Linked DNA regions of Homo sapiens. The protein of the gene in region 1 purifies or fractionates together with the protein of each later gene. This does not show direct contact. Each region holds a gene or a part of one and is shown on either strand. Other genes may lie near its edges.

What was found.
Region 2: the proteins of ENTPD1 (region 1) and ASCC3 purify together in Homo sapiens (affinity purification with mass spectrometry; one large-scale study listed by BioGRID and IntAct). This does not show direct contact.
Region 3: the proteins of ENTPD1 (region 1) and ANKRD44 purify together in Homo sapiens (affinity purification with mass spectrometry; one large-scale study listed by BioGRID and IntAct). This does not show direct contact.
Region 4: the proteins of ENTPD1 (region 1) and USP34 purify together in Homo sapiens (affinity purification with mass spectrometry; one large-scale study listed by BioGRID and IntAct). This does not show direct contact.
Region 5: the proteins of ENTPD1 (region 1) and ANKRD50 purify together in Homo sapiens (affinity purification with mass spectrometry; one large-scale study listed by BioGRID and IntAct). This does not show direct contact.

Annotation. Positions count from the first base shown.
Region 1 is NC_000010.11:95,846,651-95,850,171, reverse strand, and holds part of ENTPD1 (ectonucleoside triphosphate diphosphohydrolase 1), read right to left. Parts: exon of another isoform or gene 3,436-3,521; intron 2,781-3,435; exon of another isoform or gene 2,727-2,780; coding exon 2,466-2,726; intron 762-2,465; coding exon of another isoform or gene 600-761; exon of another isoform or gene 1-599.
Region 2 is NC_000006.12:100,511,005-100,514,343, forward strand, and holds part of ASCC3 (activating signal cointegrator 1 complex subunit 3), read right to left. Parts: intron 1,915-3,339; coding exon 1,705-1,914; intron 1-1,704. UniProt on the Homo sapiens protein: ATPase involved both in DNA repair and rescue of stalled ribosomes. 3'-5' DNA helicase involved in repair of alkylated DNA: promotes DNA unwinding to generate single-stranded substrate needed for ALKBH3, enabling ALKBH3 to process alkylated N3-methylcytosine (3mC) within double-stranded regions.
Region 3 is NC_000002.12:197,300,760-197,304,280, reverse strand, and holds part of ANKRD44 (serine/threonine-protein phosphatase 6 regulatory ankyrin repeat subunit B), read left to right. Parts: intron 1-1,761; exon of another isoform or gene 1,762-2,048; intron 2,049-2,867; exon of another isoform or gene 2,868-3,318; intron 3,319-3,521. UniProt on the Homo sapiens protein: Putative regulatory subunit of protein phosphatase 6 (PP6) that may be involved in the recognition of phosphoprotein substrates.
Region 4 is NC_000002.12:61,209,084-61,212,604, forward strand, and holds part of USP34 (ubiquitin carboxyl-terminal hydrolase 34), read right to left. Parts: intron 2,847-3,521; coding exon 2,689-2,846; intron 1-2,688. UniProt on the Homo sapiens protein: Ubiquitin hydrolase that can remove conjugated ubiquitin from AXIN1 and AXIN2, thereby acting as a regulator of Wnt signaling pathway.
Region 5 is NC_000004.12:124,674,730-124,678,250, forward strand, and holds part of ANKRD50 (ankyrin repeat domain-containing protein 50), read right to left. Parts: intron 1-3,521.

The DNA.
Region 1 (3,521 bases):
GGAACTAAGGGATCAAATAGAAAAGCCTCCAGGGGGAGTTCAAGACTCCTCCACCCTTTTCCAGCCCCTATCTCTCCCTGCTTTGGTTGGATGAATCACATTCAAAGGCAAGAAATTTCAGTCCCCTAAGGAGGAAAGGTTTGCTCAAGCTTGAAGGCAGGAATTGGCCATGTTTCCCAGGAAGTGAAACTTTCTGAGAAGTTACAAACTCAAGACACAAGGGTATGTTCATTGACTTTAGATTTACATCCTCGCAGTGACTGGAATGAAAAAGGCCCTTGGCCAAGGTGGCACCCTCCTTCCTCTTCAAGGAGTTCAATCTAAGGCAAGGGCCCTGGCCCAAAAAAAAGTCCAAGGTGAAGAGCCAGTGCCAGCTCAGCCACAGGGCATTCAAGTGAGGTTCAGTTTCTTCTGAATTTGGGTTTGCAGCCAACTAATAACCAAATATTACTCTGCCAGTCATTGTCTTGTCATGTATTTCCCTCAGGAACCTTGAGGGGAGGGTAGACTGTGGTTTGGACCATGGTTAAGGTAAGTCTGGATCTATGGCATTACCTATTGTTTTCTCAGAGACCAAGAAAATGAAGAGCTCATACAGTTCATAAGAAGCCAGAAGTAGAATCAGATCTGATTACGACAGTGCCTATGTTCTCTTCTAGAGCTTTGTCTTGGGCCAAGCCAGGTGACCTTAGGAGAAACTCTCTTGCTGGGGTCCTGGAGGGGAGGAGCTGAACCTCCCTTCTTACATGCTGATCTGTTTTCTGAAAAGGGAGAAAGCATGAAGGCAGGCAAAAGCCTTGTTTCTTTGAATATCTTGAATGAATAAATGAGATAATATACATATAGTGCATAGTCAATAATTGGCATTTGACAGATGGTAGCTAATTTTTCAATATGCTACTAAACTATGATTATAATAATGCTCAGCCTCTGGGACCAAAATAAGAAATTTGAAGACTGAGTCAATTAAGAGCCATCTCTTCTGCCTCTGCTCAAATATTTTATCTTATTCTGGAGTTATTAAGAAAATAAGGAATTTGGAGCTAGGATTCAAATAATCCCCCAACTCTTCAAAACATAATGACAATGATGTTATCTTCAATGTTTCTTTGGGATTTCCTGAGTTTCTACTTCCTAAATGTCTTTATAGAGGAAAACCCTCAGCTGTGTCATCTAACTGCTGCTCCTCCTCCTTCTAACATTTGAGAAGCCACCTATGGCAAACTCTAACAGGCACATACCCCATAGCTAGCCCCCTTCTTCCTCGCTTATGAAGTCCTGATTTTACCCAAGTAGAGGAAAGCAATATCCTCAAAAACGACTCCTCAGGTGATAAACAATAATTAGTCTAAACTAACTATATTAATCCATTTCTCTTTATCACAGATTGGTTTAGAGTATATATTTCACCAAGTTCTGGCCAGCAGGATCTGAAAAGATGTCAGTTGGCACTTCTGCAAAATGTGTGTGCAAGAGATGTGTGCAAGGAAAACCTTAAACATCTTTCCTGCTTTGGCTTTGCATGTGAAAGAAAATATGATGCTTGGATGTCTGATTCCAAAATGGCGGCATGGAAGCAAGCTGGCTTCATGCCCCCCAACCACAGACAACCAGAAACAAATGTACAGCACTGAGATTATCACCAGCAATATCCCAGAAATCAAATATGAAGATGAGACAGTTCCTGGGGCCACAAAGAAGTGAAAAAACTCCAAGCAGACGGGAAGATAATCAAACTTCCACATCCATGTCACCTCTCCCCCGATTCTGCCTGACACCAAGCTTGTGGAAAATTTCCCCCAAACTCACAATTTGTACACTGGAAAAAGTGAGATCAAGGTGGACAATCAGCTTCCCCATCATCCTGGGTTCCCTAGCAGGAAACCTGTCTTTGTCTTAACCCACAGTAAGCATCGTGACATCCTGAAGGGAGATATCCCTGGGGACAGGCAGAGACAAGGAAGAGGCAGATTTAGCATCCCCAGCCCTGGGAAGTCTGCTCTGTCACTTGGCCAAAGGAGATGCCAAATCAGAGTGGCTGTTCTATGGCTGTAGGAGGTCTGTCCCACAAGGTCCCCTGGGCACAACCCCCTAGTCAGTTTTCCCACACTGCTGGGGCTAACCTCTTTGGGACCTCCCCCATTCCGGAAAGGCAGTACTCTTATTGTTGACTAGAAAGGAGATGAACCTGGGCTTAAGGTGCTGCCTAGAGCCAAAAAGGAGGCAGTGACCTAGTGATATGGTGCTTGGAGCAGTAACATACCTTAGCACAAAAAGATCACAACGATAGTGGAAAAAACTGATCCCAAGTTCTGACATAGTTGAGCTGAAGAACCAACCCCTAATCATCTACCTCAAGACATTATGTAAGAGAAAAATGCATCCTATTATTTAAATCTTTTGTAGGCACATATTCTATAACTTGTAAACAAGACATCCTATACCTCATCATTTCACAAACTTACCCCAAAATCCCCCTGGAGTGGTGGCAAGAAAATCCCATTGAAGGCACACTGGGAGTAAGGGCAGTAACTGGTGTTGAAGAGCTCCAGGATGCTTTGATGGCATTGTTGATAGTTTCCAATACCCTGGATTTCAAACTGCTGGAATGGAAGAGTCATCTCAAATCTCTTGGTGCAGGGGGTCTTGTAAAGGTCACTTACGTTCACTACCTTCTTATATCCAGGATGAAAGCATGGGTCCCTGAGAATTTCATTACTTGCAACCTGAATGGAAAAATCACTTGAAAGCATCATGTGTGAACGCTTTGGATACAAAAGGTACAGTCTGACTTAATCAATATGTAGGCACTGTACAACATCCCACCACTTGGTATTGGAATCAATATGTCCTGCCCTGCCTTTTTACCCTTAGGAATAAATATGAAAAATGGATTTGTGTAACAGGCACCAGAAGTGGTATCAGATATAAATGTATTTGGCTAGTCAAAGAATGCTGATGTAGTTAAAACTGGGCCCAGAAATGCCATTAGTTTGAAATGTCCCTGAGTGCTTAGTCCTAATCATCTAGGTCAGGAGCAAATTCACAAGGAAACTCTCAAGGTTGTCAAAAATTTGGGCCTGGGAGTAGTTCTCCAGGAGCCTACATAATTTAAAAATTATTAAAAAAATTTTTTTTCTTCTTCAAGCATTCTCCTATCCAAGAAAAATAATTTTTTTTTTTGAGATGGAGTCTTGCTCTGTCGCCCAGGCTGGAGTAAAATGGCGCAATCTCAGCTCACTGCAACCTCAGCCTCCCAGGTTCAAGCGATTCTCCTGCCTCAGACTCCTTAGTAGCTGGAATTACAGGTGTGTGCCACCACACCCGGCTAATTTTTTGTATTTTTAGTAGAGACGGGGTGTCGCCATGTTGGTCAGGCTGGTCTCGAACTCCGGACCTCAAGTGATCCACCCGCCTCGGCCTCCCAAAGTGCTGGGATTACAGGTGTGAGCCACCACGCCTGGCCCAAAAAAAAGTAATTTCTAACCCACAACCTACTAGGGAAGAAAGGAGGCTGCTGT
Region 2 (3,339 bases), on another chromosome or scaffold:
TTAAGTAGAATATTAAGGTAAAAAAATCATAGTTTTCCCCCATGATTTTATCTTTATGATTGTTGCTATTTTTATTATTACTATTATTAGTTTGTAATTATTACTTTTTTTTATAAGTTGGAATACATTAAGTCATCTAAAAAATGCTCATATTGCCAGGTGCAGTGGGTCACGCCTGTAATCCCAACACTTTGGGAGGCCAAGGCAGGTGGATCACCTGAGGTCAGGAGTTTGAGACCAGCCTGGCCAACATAATACAAAAAATTAGCTGGGTATGGTGGCAGGCACCTGTAATCCCAGTTACTCGGGATGCTGAGGAAGGAGAATTGCTTAAACCCGGGAGGCGGAGGTTGCAGGGAGCTGATGTTGCACCCTTGTACTCCAGCCTGGATAACATAAGTGAAATTCCATCTCAAACAAACAAACAAATGAAACCTCATATTAAGGTCAGGTGTGGTGGCTCATGCTGGTAATCCCAGAACTTTGGGAGGCAGAGGCAGGTGGATCATTTGAGGTCAGGAGTTCAAGATGAGCTGGTCAACATGGTGAAACCCTATCTCTACTAAAAATACAAAAAATTAGTTGAGTGTAGTGGCACATGCCTGTAAAACCCAGCTATTTGGGAGGCTGAAGCAGGAGAAATGCTTGAACCCAGGAGGTGGAGGTTGCAGTGAGCCAAGTCTGGGCGACACAGTGAGACTTCGTATCAAAAAAAAAAGCTCATACTAAAGCCTCTGAAATGCCAGAGGCCAATCAGTTAATACTTACACTGACAGACTTTTTTAGAATTAGAAATCAAATGAGGTGAGACTTGAAGGTACAATACTGAAAGAACATCTTAAGAATAGAAAGTTACTGATCATTTTGTGTGTGAGAACAGAAGGGACAATACTTATGAACTACAGCTTCACCCCTGAGGGCTTATTCTAGATATGGGAAAGCCCTGAATCCACTGGACCAAAAAGAAGACTAATTCTTTCTTATTTTAATTATTATGGCACTAAAAACCAATCTGCCCACCTGCTGTGTACTAATATTCTTAGAGGACCAGATAATCAGAGGCAACAGAAAAGAGCATAGTAATCTAAAATAAAAATACTGTACATTTTTGCCTGTATGAACATTGACAAAGCTCTCCTATGCATTATAATGAAGGACGCAGGCAAATGTGGCAACTGAGGCTCAGAAAAGCTTAATGTCTTATTCAAATTCATAGAGCTAAGTGGTAAAGCTTCAGTCTCATCTACATCTAGCCCAATGTGGTTCCTGTATACCAAAGTGCCTCTAGGCCAGTACTGCTCAAGCTTTAAGGCCCTTAAAAATCATGTGGGGCACTGAGTGAAGGTATAGATTTTGAGATTCCCGCCTCCTTGAGGTTCTGATTCAGCCAGTCTGGAGTGGGGCCAAGGAATCTGCACTTTAAAAGGCACTCCAGGAAATTCTGCTGGCCAGAGTCTGTATACCATACTTTGAGAATAGTACTCTAGGCAATATATTCTTATGTAAGGTAGATTTTCTGGGGCTGAAAAATGACACATGAGGAGAACTCACGAATTTCAAAAGACTAACTCTCGCTGCTTAAGACCAGTTGAGAAAGCAGGATTCATGAATGACACGGGCACATTAGTCACATAACAGATATGTGTGGTGGTGCATGCTGGTATTTGGTGTGAAATATTTGAGAATGGAAACCAAACACTATACCTTGTGGAACCCAAAGTGGACTCTCTGCAAGCTCACTTGAAGCACATACTCTTGGTCAGCATGCAATTTGATCCATTTGTTGTCATCTCGTTTGTCTGCAGTCAGAGTTGAGACAGAGAGTTCATTATGTCCTTCAACTAAGTCATCCCACGAGCCTTTAACACTTATGCCAACATTTATCACTGGCAAGTGAGATAAGAAATTCCATGCCTAAATAAAAAGAGAAAAGAAACAATAAAGGAGGAGTTTATGTGAAATGCAATGATCAATTAAGAAATAGTGTGCTTTTAGACGAAAATTAACCTTTTAATGTTGAGATTAATTCTAGATCCAATGCAGTTGCAGGAAATAATACAGAGACATTCTGTGGACCATTTACCCAGTTTCCTCCAAAGGTAGCATTTTTCAAAACTACGGTACTTATTACTACTAGGATATTGACATTAACATAATCCAGTGATTTTGTTCAGATTTCCCCAATTTTTCTTGTATTTGTGTCTATATGCATGTATGTGTAAGAATATTGTGCTTTTAGTCTTTTTAATGTCTTTGTAAAAATAACTAAAAGAGGGCTTATCATTATTTAAACTTGTGATTCCTTTATTGTAAATCCTTCCTGATACTGAGCAGCTGTTGACTATATTAAAATAAAACAAGTTAAAAAATGTCTGTTATCGAACTGGTTTGTTTTAGAGAAGCATCTATTCAGACATTCACATGGCTTCTAAGAAGGAGAGCATTACTTGGGGATAAAAGGGCAATGTGAAAATATTTTTGTAATTCAATTATTGATGTTAGAATCCTCCACTGACCACTTATTGTACATTTTTTGGCCCATATTTCAAATTTGCCCTATTTATTCAGAAAAAAATTCTTTATATTTTATATCATAAGGAATTCTATAAGTCTAGGGTTCCTTCTAGAAACAAATATGAATTTTTGGCATCATCATACTGAGAATACCAATTAAAATGACACATTAAAAGATATTTTACCTAACTTTATACTTGCTCTTGAAGTGGAAAGACATTTGTAAAAAATCAGTATTCAAATAGCAAGTGCTCAACAATAATGAATGAATGAATGAGAATACCTAGGTCTACAGAAAAGATGTAACAAAAAACTTGAGGTCATCTTTTTCTAACATATACACTTATATGGCAATATCACCATCAGTCAAGAAAACTTCTCAATACATTGGCTTTTTTTTTTTTAATCAGTTGTTACCTTCTCAGTTAGTTTTTAAAAGTACATGGTACTTTAATTTTGGTTTTTCTTTTATTCCTTTAATATATACTATAGATTTCCTTATAGGCTTTGATTTTGCTTAGTGCTGCTGAGTATACCTAATTGAAATGAAGTAGTCCTGATGAACCAAACTACCCCTTAGGAATTAAAAAAAATGTAAATTCAATGCAAATTTTCAATTCAACTCCAATCCTATAACTTGTCTTATCAATCTGAAATCATGTCTTGAACTGGATTTTGAAGTAGTCAAGCCACAGATGGTACTTCAATCTGTACAACCTGTACAAAGGATGGTCTATCCCCTGCTAGAACCCATAGTCACTAAGTATAGAAGCTGTACCACTAGATGTTCTTCTAGGACTGGCCAGTCTGGAAAAGGGGTTAAGG
Region 3 (3,521 bases), on another chromosome or scaffold:
GTATAGTGGTGCAATCTTGGCTCATTGCAACCCCCGCCGACCCCCTCCTGGGGTTCAAGTGATTCTTGAGCCTCAGACTCCCGGGTAGCTGGGATTACAGGCTTGCACCACTACGCCCAGCTAATTTTTGTATTTTTAGTAGAGATGAGGTTTCACCATGTCGGCCAGGCTGGTCTCAAACTCCTGGCCTCATGTGATCTGCCTGCCTCAGCCTCCCAAAGTGCTGGGATTACAGGGGTAAGCCACCACACCTGGCCTAAGATTGCCCTCTTTATAGATTACTCCTTTTTAACCTTTTAACCAATATATTATTTGGCTTTGGCTGCTTTCAGAGGTCGGGAATGCAGGTATTTGCCCTTATCAGTGTTTATGTTTGTAAATATGTTGGTAGCCTAAGAGGTTGAAATTAATGATTCATGAATCCAGCTTGTAATTATGATATTCATAATTTTTAAGGATCTTTTCACTTGCCTCCTCTTTTGAAAACTTAAAATTTATATTCTATAAAGTGAGCTAAGCAAATAAATATATAGTCCACTTTGGGCTGTTTCAGGGATTACTAAGTCGATAATTGTTTGCATTTCTTGGTTTTTGTTTGCTTAGAGTCCCCTTGCTCCCATCCTGGGGAGTCTTAAGCATCCAAGCATAGCTTTCTAGGATATCTTTTATACCAGAAGACCATTTTCCCCTAAGAAAGCTTTCAGAGCTTTTAGTAAAATTAGGGAGACTTGTGGAAACATCTGTTTGAGCCTAGACATGGAAATTAATTACAATTCTAACCTGTCTCTAAAAGTTTTGCTTTTTTTATTTAAAAAATTTTGTTTTGCTTTAGTTTGTTTTAAAAATAACACTAGATTGGGAATCAGAAGACGTGGATTCTACTCATGGTTCTTCTAACTGTTGTATGGTTTGGGGTAAGTCCTGGCCTTCGTTTCTTTGTCTGTCAAAATGGGAACAGGTAGAAAATTCTCTAAATTCTTCCAAGCTCTAACATTCTAAGATAGCTCCTCACATATTTCAATGTCAGTCTTTTCTCATCTTGTGGAATCTCAGTTCAAAAAGTATCTGCCTTTTATGAACTTCTGATTTTCTCCCAAGTGTGTTTGTGGCAGCTTTAAAGTTTCCCAGGTTTGGTAAACACATCCTGAGTTTTGTCTAAGGGTGAGGAGTCCTTTCTCCAAGAAGTTTGTCTTCTGGCATCTCCAGGAGCCTGGCTGTGGGGACACAGAACCCCTGGGGCTGTTCTCAGTGTGGTTCTTTGAGAATCCTCTTGAACTTCTTACAGGATAAAGGGAGCAATCCTTACAAAGGCCATGCTTGTCTCTTGTGAGCTGGGGCCCACCTTAGCCTTCTTCAGAGGTGTTGCTTTAGCAAATACCTTGGGTCCTCCCAGGCAAAATCCTATTTTATTGAACCCAAATAACATGTGCATCTAACAAGTTTATTTCTGAAGGGTTGGCCCAGAGTTGGGTGCAGTTGACATGGTGACCACAGACTTTCTCAAGAAAGGAAGAAAATTCCTACATGTAATCACCAGCCTCTGTATGGTTAGTCTCTGTGGAGGAGACTTGTTTTGGTGTCTAAGACTGGCAAGATCAGGAAAAAGGAAAGTGAGCATAAGAGAAGTCTAAAGACAGAAAGCCAGGCAGACATTCAGGTCAGCCGGGACAAATCAACCAACCAATTATTGTGAAACAATGGCCTCCAAAAGTAGGTGTGGCCTACACCCCAAGGATGAACACAATACTTTATTGAGTTGGAGTTTGGGAAAGAGAATATTGGAATTCATATTTCTTTAAATCATTCTTTTAAACTTTTAATTTTTATGTAGTTTTAGTACATCTTATTTGCTAGTACTGTGTCATCTTTTTGGCTGTATTTTTCACTGGCTGCCACCTGGCCAAATCACCACTTGGGTTATAACAGCAGCCTCTGACTGGTCTCCTTCCGTCTGACCTTGGCCCCTGCACTCTACTCTCAACGTAGCTCTCAGAGTGATGGAACTCAGAACTTGTCACTCCTGCTCAAAAACTTCCAGTTTCACCCAGGTGAAAGCTAAGGTCATTAGAGTGACCTCTGCACTCAGCTCATCCACTCAACTGTCCAGCCTTGTCTGCTGTCCACCTCTTCCTGGCTCCTTGGCTCCAGCCCCACTGGCCTCCTCCTATTTAGTGAACACACCAGCTGCGCTCCTGCCTCGGGACCCTTGCTGTTCCTGCTCCCTGTGCAGCTCCTCCCTAGATATCTGCATGGCTCACCTTTACCTCTTTCGGGTCTTTCCTCAGATGTTACCTTCTCAGTGAGTCCCTTTCTGACCACACTATTTAAAATGCCCACTCCACATTTCCTGTCTGCCTTTCTTTATTTTCCTCCACAGTGTAAATCCCTCATACCATATATTTGACTCCCCCCATTTTAAAAACCAAAACTTACATGTGGCTAAGATATAGATAACAGGACAAAGATTATTTTGTTAGTTTGGTTCATTCACTGCTGTGTCTTTAGCACTTAAAACAGGGTAAGGTGCATAGTAAATGCTCAATAAATATTTGTTAAGTGATTGAATATAAATATGTATATGTATCTGTATATGTACATGTTCAAATGTTTTTTACTCATGAAGTACTCAAACAAAGAAAAGAGAAACACTTCTATAAACAGCTTTCATTTTACACTGGGATGTCAAATTTCCATTCAAACAAAATTAAGAGAAAGTTTTCTGCCCTATGAAAAGATAAAAGATCACATATTGTCCTATTTTCTGGTTATATTTTCCCTCTTTTTAAACTGTGCTTTTGGTTGTGAGGATGGTTAGCACTGTAGGTAATTCTCAGTCGTAGGTAATTCTCAGTTCCATTTCTTTTCAGGGGAAGTATCAAGGTGACATGAGGGGACAGGAAATATTGTCCCTAAATGTTCTAAGAGTGGATCTCCCATGTATTCAAGCAATCGAGGGGTGTTTAATGAGCTCCATCTACATAGCAATGATACAGCATAGCTCTGCTGGGGCTCTCTGCTCTCCCCTTCTCCACAAAAGGGAAGGACAGGTAAGAACAGGCACAATAAAATAGAAACCAGACAGAAAGAATTGGGAACAAGGAGACAAGACAAGAATCATGCTTTACGTGATTTAATCCTAATATTTTTATGAGAGGATGGCTATCATCATTTCATTTTAAAGATGAGGAAAATGAAGCCGGGTGCGGTGGCTCATGCCTGTAATCCCAGCACTTTGGAAGGCCGAGGAAGATGGCTCACCTGAGGTCAGGAGTTCGAGACCAGCCTGGCCAGAGAGATGGCCAGAGATGGCTAGAGATGGTGAAACCCCATTTCTACTAAAAATACAAAAATTAGTCAGGTGTGGTGGCAAGCACTTGTAATCCCAGCTACTTGGGAGGCTGAGGCAGGAGAATTGCTTGAACCTGGGAGGACGAGGTTGCAGTGAGCCGAGATTGTGCCATTGCACTCCAGCCTGGGCGACAAGAGTGAAACTCTGTCTCAAAAAAAAAAAAAAAAAAAAA
Region 4 (3,521 bases), on another chromosome or scaffold:
CCTACCTACAGAAAAGAGACTGCTTCATCTGTTTCCTGGAAATGCAGCATAAGGAAATAATATTAAATAAACTCTAACTAAAAAAAAGTCTATTAATATCTAATCAACTGCTAATTATCTACAATGGCAGAAGATATGGGAATATTTTTAAAGTTTCCACATAAACAATGTTGATTTTTATAATAGGCTCATCTTCTGATTGTTAAATTCTGGATAATCATAAAATTCACCATATTATCTAAACACTCATCAGCTGGTAATTAAAAAAGAGTAACATGAAGGAAAAAAATACTAAAAACGTGTCAGCCTTGAAAATAGTTTATAAAATACAGTCATGTGCCACAAAATGAAATTGTGGTAAATGATGGATCACAAACACAATGGTGGTCCCATAAGATTATAATGGAGCTGATAAATTCCTATTAGCCTAGTGACTTCATAGCCATGGTAACATTCACAATGCATTACCCACATGTCTCTGATGACGCTGGTATAAACAAACTTGTTGTACTGCCAGTCTTGTAAGTATACCACAATTATGTACAGTACCTAATACTTGATAATGTTAATAAATGACTATGTTACTGGTTTATGTATTTACTATATTATCATTATTTTACTACTTATTTCAAAAAAAGTTAAATGTAAAACAGCCTTAGACAGGCCCTACAGGAGGGATTCCAGAAGAAGGCATCATTGTCAGAGGAGATGACAGCTCTAAGCTAGTTACTGCCTCTGAAGACCTCCCAAGTGGGACAAGATGTGGAGGTGGGAGACAGAGATACTGATGATCCCAACCCTGCTAGGCCTAGCCTAATTGTGTGTGTTTATGTCTTAGTTTTTAACGAAAACATTTAAAAAGAAAAAAAATTTAAATATGAAAAGCTTATAAAGATATAAATACTTTTGTTCAGCTATAAAATGTGTGTTTTAAGTGTTATGATAGTGTGTTTTAAGTGCTACGATAGAAGAATCAAGAAGTTAAAAAAACTTATAAAGTAAAAAAAGTTCAGTACATTAATAATGAAGAAAAAGTATTTTAAAATAAATTTAGTGTAGCTTAAGTGTACAGTGTTTATAAAGTCTATAGTAGGGTACAATAATGTCCCAGGCCTTCACATTCCCTCACCACTCATTCACTGGCTTACCTAGGGCAATTTCCAGTCTTGCAAGCACCATTCATGGTAAGTGCCCTACACAAGTGTACCATTTTCTGTCTTTTATTCCATATTTTTACTGTACCTTTTCTATGTTTAAATACGTTTAGATACACAAATACTTACCTTTCTGTTATAATTGCCTACAGTATTCAGTGTAGTAACATGCTATACAGATTTAGAGCCTAGGAACAGTTGGCTATACCATATATCCTAGGGGTGTAGCAGGCGCTACTATCTAGTTGTGTGTGAGTAGTCACTCTGATGTTTGCACAATGATGAAATAGGCTAAAAATTTATTTCTCAGAATGTAACCCTGTTGTTATGCAACACATGACTATAATTACTCACACAGCTATATTACTGTTAACAGGTCTTCTTTCATTAGATACCAGAAAAATGTTGTTATAGACTACAACTGGAAATCCTTCTACTTTATTCCTTTCCTTTTTCAAGAAGAGTTAAGAAAGCTCCAAATCTTTTTTTTCTTTTTTTGAGACTCGCTCTGTCACCCAGGCTGGAGTACAATGGCACAATCATGGCTCACTGCAGCTTCCACCTTTTGGGCTCAAGGATCTTCCCACCTCAGCCCCCCGAGGAGCTGGGACTACAGGTGCATGCCGTCACACCCTAATTTATTTGCTAACTTATTTATTTATATAGAGATGGGGTTTTACTATGTTGCCCAGGCTGCTCTAAATCTTTTTTGAAATAAAGCTTTAAGTAGTAAACTTTGGGAAAACAATTGTATTCAAAATTAATCCAAAATTTAAAAACAATCCCTTTAAGAAATCCGGCAAAGGCGTAGTTAATTTCCCTGTTTACTAATGAAGACTCACATTTGAAAGCTTTCCAAAGAAGACAATCTGAAATAACCTCATCTTAGATTGAGTAGCTTAAGATATTACAGTGAAGTCTTCAGTAAAGTACCATTAAAAAAAATGTGCCTAATAAAAAACAACACTTCCAAGTCTTAGATGTAATACATAGAAGAATTTAAGAAATTAGCCTGAACTTTATTTCTCTAGGTTAAGGGGAATTAAGGGTAATTTGTAGTAGTTCCTGTAACCATTCAATAACTTCTGTAGCTCTGAAAATTAATTATAAAGACTATGTTTTATAATTTTGGCCAAGTCATATAGATCAGAAAGCCAGATAGATATATTTGGGCTAAACAGAATGCAAAATATTAACAGACTCATCCAAAGGTGCAGAAAACTTCCTGGAGGCCTCTAGAACTGAACTATCAAGCCTGAGTTAGGATAAATTGCCATAAACAAGACTATTCAAGCTTTGGGTAGAAGGCTATACATAAAGGTTCCCTTCAACCCTAAAATGATAAAACATACACAAATACAAACCAAAGCCAGACCAAAAACTGTTTAAAAGTAGTTCATGAACCTTCAAAATGTTCCAAAGTGGCTACATGCACAAATGCTTCCCCAATGTAAATGATTTATCTTTAAACATCAAAAGGATGGTCCTCATCTCACTGGAAATAAACAAGACAAAACTAAAAACATCTTTTTACCTTATTAAAGTAGTCCAGCAGGAGCGGCCATCTAAGCAACGTAAGTAACAACTTATGGTTGTTTTCTTGAACTGTTTAATATCTTCTAATTCTTCTTCTCTCATATCTGGCCTCTGAGCTATAAACAGCTGCATCAGGTTAAACAGTTCTTCTACTGCCTAAAAAAGCCAAATAAGCCATATGATCTTTTAACCCTATAGCATTTTAGAAGGTCAGTTTCTCATTTCTACGTTCATTAATCAACTCTTAAAATTATACAAATAAGCTAGATTATACTTCCATTCAGAAAGTTATAAAATCAGTAACAAATTCTATTTAAAAAATTTTGGCTGGGCGCAGTGGCTGATGCCTAGCACTTTGGGAGGCAGAGGCGGGCAGATTGCCTGAACTCAGGAGTTCGAGACCAGCCAGGGCAACATGATGAAACTCTGTCTCTACTAAAATACAAATAATAACAATAATAATAAACACTAAAAGAACTCAACAAATCTTAAAATACAAGTTTAGAAAGAGTAAAAACTGTAAGTGAATACAATTCATTTTTAGTCTTATTACTGCTTAAAGCACTACTTTTGTAACTTCAAATGTAAACCCAGAGGCATGCCACACCATCTCCTATCCACTTTTTCTTTAATTAATGAGAAATCATTACTTTGTCACAAAGATTTTAAATGCCTAAATAACCCTTAAATTAATAGTGTATATGAGGTAAACCTTTGTTCCAACATTTAAAATGCTTTTCTAGAATGATGCTCAGTTCAATTTCCTGATGAATAAAAAGTAAAAACAAATATTTTAGTAAAATCACTAGCTGTGATTTTATAGACTCATAT
Region 5 (3,521 bases), on another chromosome or scaffold:
GAATTTCATAAAGAAAACTTACAGAGAATTTATAATTTAGAGAATAAATCTCCCCCCAATCTAAATACTTAATAATATGGATTTTAGATAGAAGAAATTACCATGTTCTTTACCAATGATGGTTATAATAGTTATCTGTTCATTAAAACAGAACTAAGAATATCTATTAATCAACAACTTAAATATCTTGAGTTACAGTACTGAAAATAATTACTTTTAAAAATTATAACTTCTGACTAATACACATGTAATCCTCTTATTATGAACACACACAATATATAGCTATCAAAGCACTTTTAAACATAAGATAGGGCTGAAAAATAATCAAAACTTCTAGGGGAATAAAAACATGACTTACTGAAATGATGGACCACCTACCTCCCTATTTCTTTTCTATTCTTACTTGAATAGAAGTATTTTTCTATTCTTTTCTATTCTTACTTGAACTTTTCTATTCTTACTTGAACTTTTCTATTCTTACTTGAAACATTTCTATTATTTTCTATTCTTGCTTGAATTATTTCTCAGGGTACCGCATTACGCAGTACTGGTGAAAACAGAGTGAAAGAGAAGACCTGTGCCAATATTTATAAATTGATGCTTACTGAAATTACTTATTATCATGAAGAACATATGAGGATAAGCAATACGAAAATAAAACCTAAAAATATAACAAGAAGTTTAAGCAAATGCCAGCATATTAATATACAAATAAAATATGTAGGCATTAAAATAGTCATTAAAAAGACAATATGGTGACACTGAAAGGTTTGTCAATGTTAAATTTAAAAAGCAGAAAATCAAATTGATATATAGCATGATCTCAACTAGGAAGGGGAACATATACAGAATTTAACACAACGTGTTAATAATAATTAAGCACTCTTATTAGTATCTGGTGTAATATTTGTGTATGTTGTCATTTAAAATATGTTCTAAATGGAGCCTGTAATACTTTTATAATCAGATAAAATAAACACATAAATAATCTTTTAAAAATCTTGGAGGGTTAATTTTTTGTGCACAAAATGTTTTGAAATAGGCTGCTATTTCTTTCAGTCCCATAACAAGGCCTAACAATGATCAGCCTATGAGAATACCCTAGTTGTAGTCAAAATTGTGCTTAGTGCCAAAGTCATTTTCATTAGATTAATCTGAAGCCATTAATGAAAATGCTACTGGTCAGTATAGTGAATACATCAGAAAAGTTATAAAAACTGTCTTTCCAAAGGCTTAATCCTCAGATATGAGTAGGTGAAGCCAATTTAGACATAGTAAAGATCTTAATGTTACTGGCTATGATGATACACGTGCAATTTTAATTTCAAATGCATACAACTAAAAACACATACATTTCAACTTAAAACGTAAGCAAAGACCAGAAAGATATGTGTAGGACATATAGAAGGATAACTGGAAAATCTAAGGAGAAACTTGAATAAATGCACAGATATGTTATGTTTATGAGTAGAAAGAAAGCATATTTTAAACAGCAAATTCTTTCTTATTTAAATTGCAATTTTATCAAAATCTTAATAATTTTTTGGTTTATATCACTGACAGTTATAATTTAAAATATGCTATTACAACCTAGAGGAGCACAGGTAAAAATATATAATTTAAAATAATAATAATGATGGCAAAGAGGGCTGGGAAGTAATTGCACAAGAAAATTACAAAAATTAAGCCAACATTTTATTTGCATAATAATGCTAACAGATAGTTTAGAAGAGCAGATGAATAGTTTAGAAATAGAGTAATAGTACACAGACATATCTATATGTACACACACCCAAACTTAATGTATGATGAAAAAAAATCACCAAGTAATTGTAAAGGAAGTCAATAAATTGCTGAGAAAATTTATGATTTTACAGATTATTCAAGTTAGAGCTTTATTTCATACCTTTTAGTAAAAAATAGTGTATATGGGCAAAATCATTAAAGGTAAAACTAAGAATACAGAATAGTAAAGGACAATACATTAGAGGTTACAAATAATATACTTCAAAATAATTATTACAATTTTAAAAAGCTGAAGAAAATAGTTGCAAAGAATTGAAAAAATATCAAATACAAGCCCTGAAAATCAGTAAGAAAATAACTTTGACTTCCCAATAAAAACATAAAGGTCAGATAGCAGAATTTCATGGAAAAAAGGCAAATTGATGAAATAAGCATAAGGGAGAAAGGGTTCAACAGTAAACAAGAAGTACAAATAAACATAATAGAGTATTTTTCACATACCACATTGACAAATTAAAGAAAGACATAATTCAATACTGGTGCAAGTAAAAAGAAACCACCCAACACTTTCAGGTAGGAATATAATAATATATATCCTTTTGGAAAGCAATTTGACAATATGTATTAATAACTTTAGCAATATCCTTAAATTTTTACCTCAAAATTCCACATCTACCATGAACAGAGTGGTGGTCACATGTTTATATACAGCCCAACAATTTAATAATTAATATCCCAAAAAAAGAAGTAAATTTAACTGGAGTTCAAAATGTACATACTCTATAATCCAGCAATTACAAGTCTAGATTTATAATGTAAACTTTCAGCACATGTGCACAAGAATACATGAACAAATATGTTCATGAAGCATTTTTTGTAACAGCAAAAAACTGAAAATGATCTAAATGTCCATGAACAGGATAACGGAAAAATAAAAAGAGATTTATTGATGGGAAGGAGTACTATCTACCAATTAAAACCAATGAAATGGATTTATAATGAATATGGCTCAAAAATATTGTTGGCTAAAAAAAGAGAATCAAATAATAATAGCAACGATATATTTCTGAAGCACTTACTATGTATTAGGCATTGTCTTAAGTGCTTCATATGTAATTTGTCATTTAACCTTACAAAAATCCTATAAGAAAAGTAATATTATAATCCCCATTTCATAGATAAGGAAACAGAGGCACACAGAATATAAATTGTGTAAAGTCACATGGCTAGTGAGTGGTAAAAGCTCAGATGGTGTACGGAGTGTTTCATTTATGTAAACTATAAACATACATAATATAAAATATGAGCTGAAAGCATATAAAATAAGTGAATAATACTGGTTTTCTCTAATGAGGAAAAGAAAGGAACGGTGACACAGACCAAAAGGGGCTTCTACTGTACCTATGCCTGACATACTAAATGCTACGTTAAGTGTTAGCTATTGTTATTTAAATTACTAAACTTTTACCAACTATATTTTTATCAATAACAACAAGAAAGAATGCCATATGTGGAAACCAAAAGTGCTGCCTTTAGTAGCAAGGGAATTGAAGAGAGACAACCTGATAGAAGGAATAAAGCCGCTTACAGAAAATTATTTTAACAAACTAACAAGATTTCAACATACTGTAAAATGTATAGAACTACTCAAAAGTTATATGGCTAATTAATCATTAATATCTCTCCAATTACACTATATATCCTGTGATATGTCCTTGTTTTACACTTCTTTTATTTCCCACAAGACAAAGAGTGTGTTAATCTAATAGGAGTAA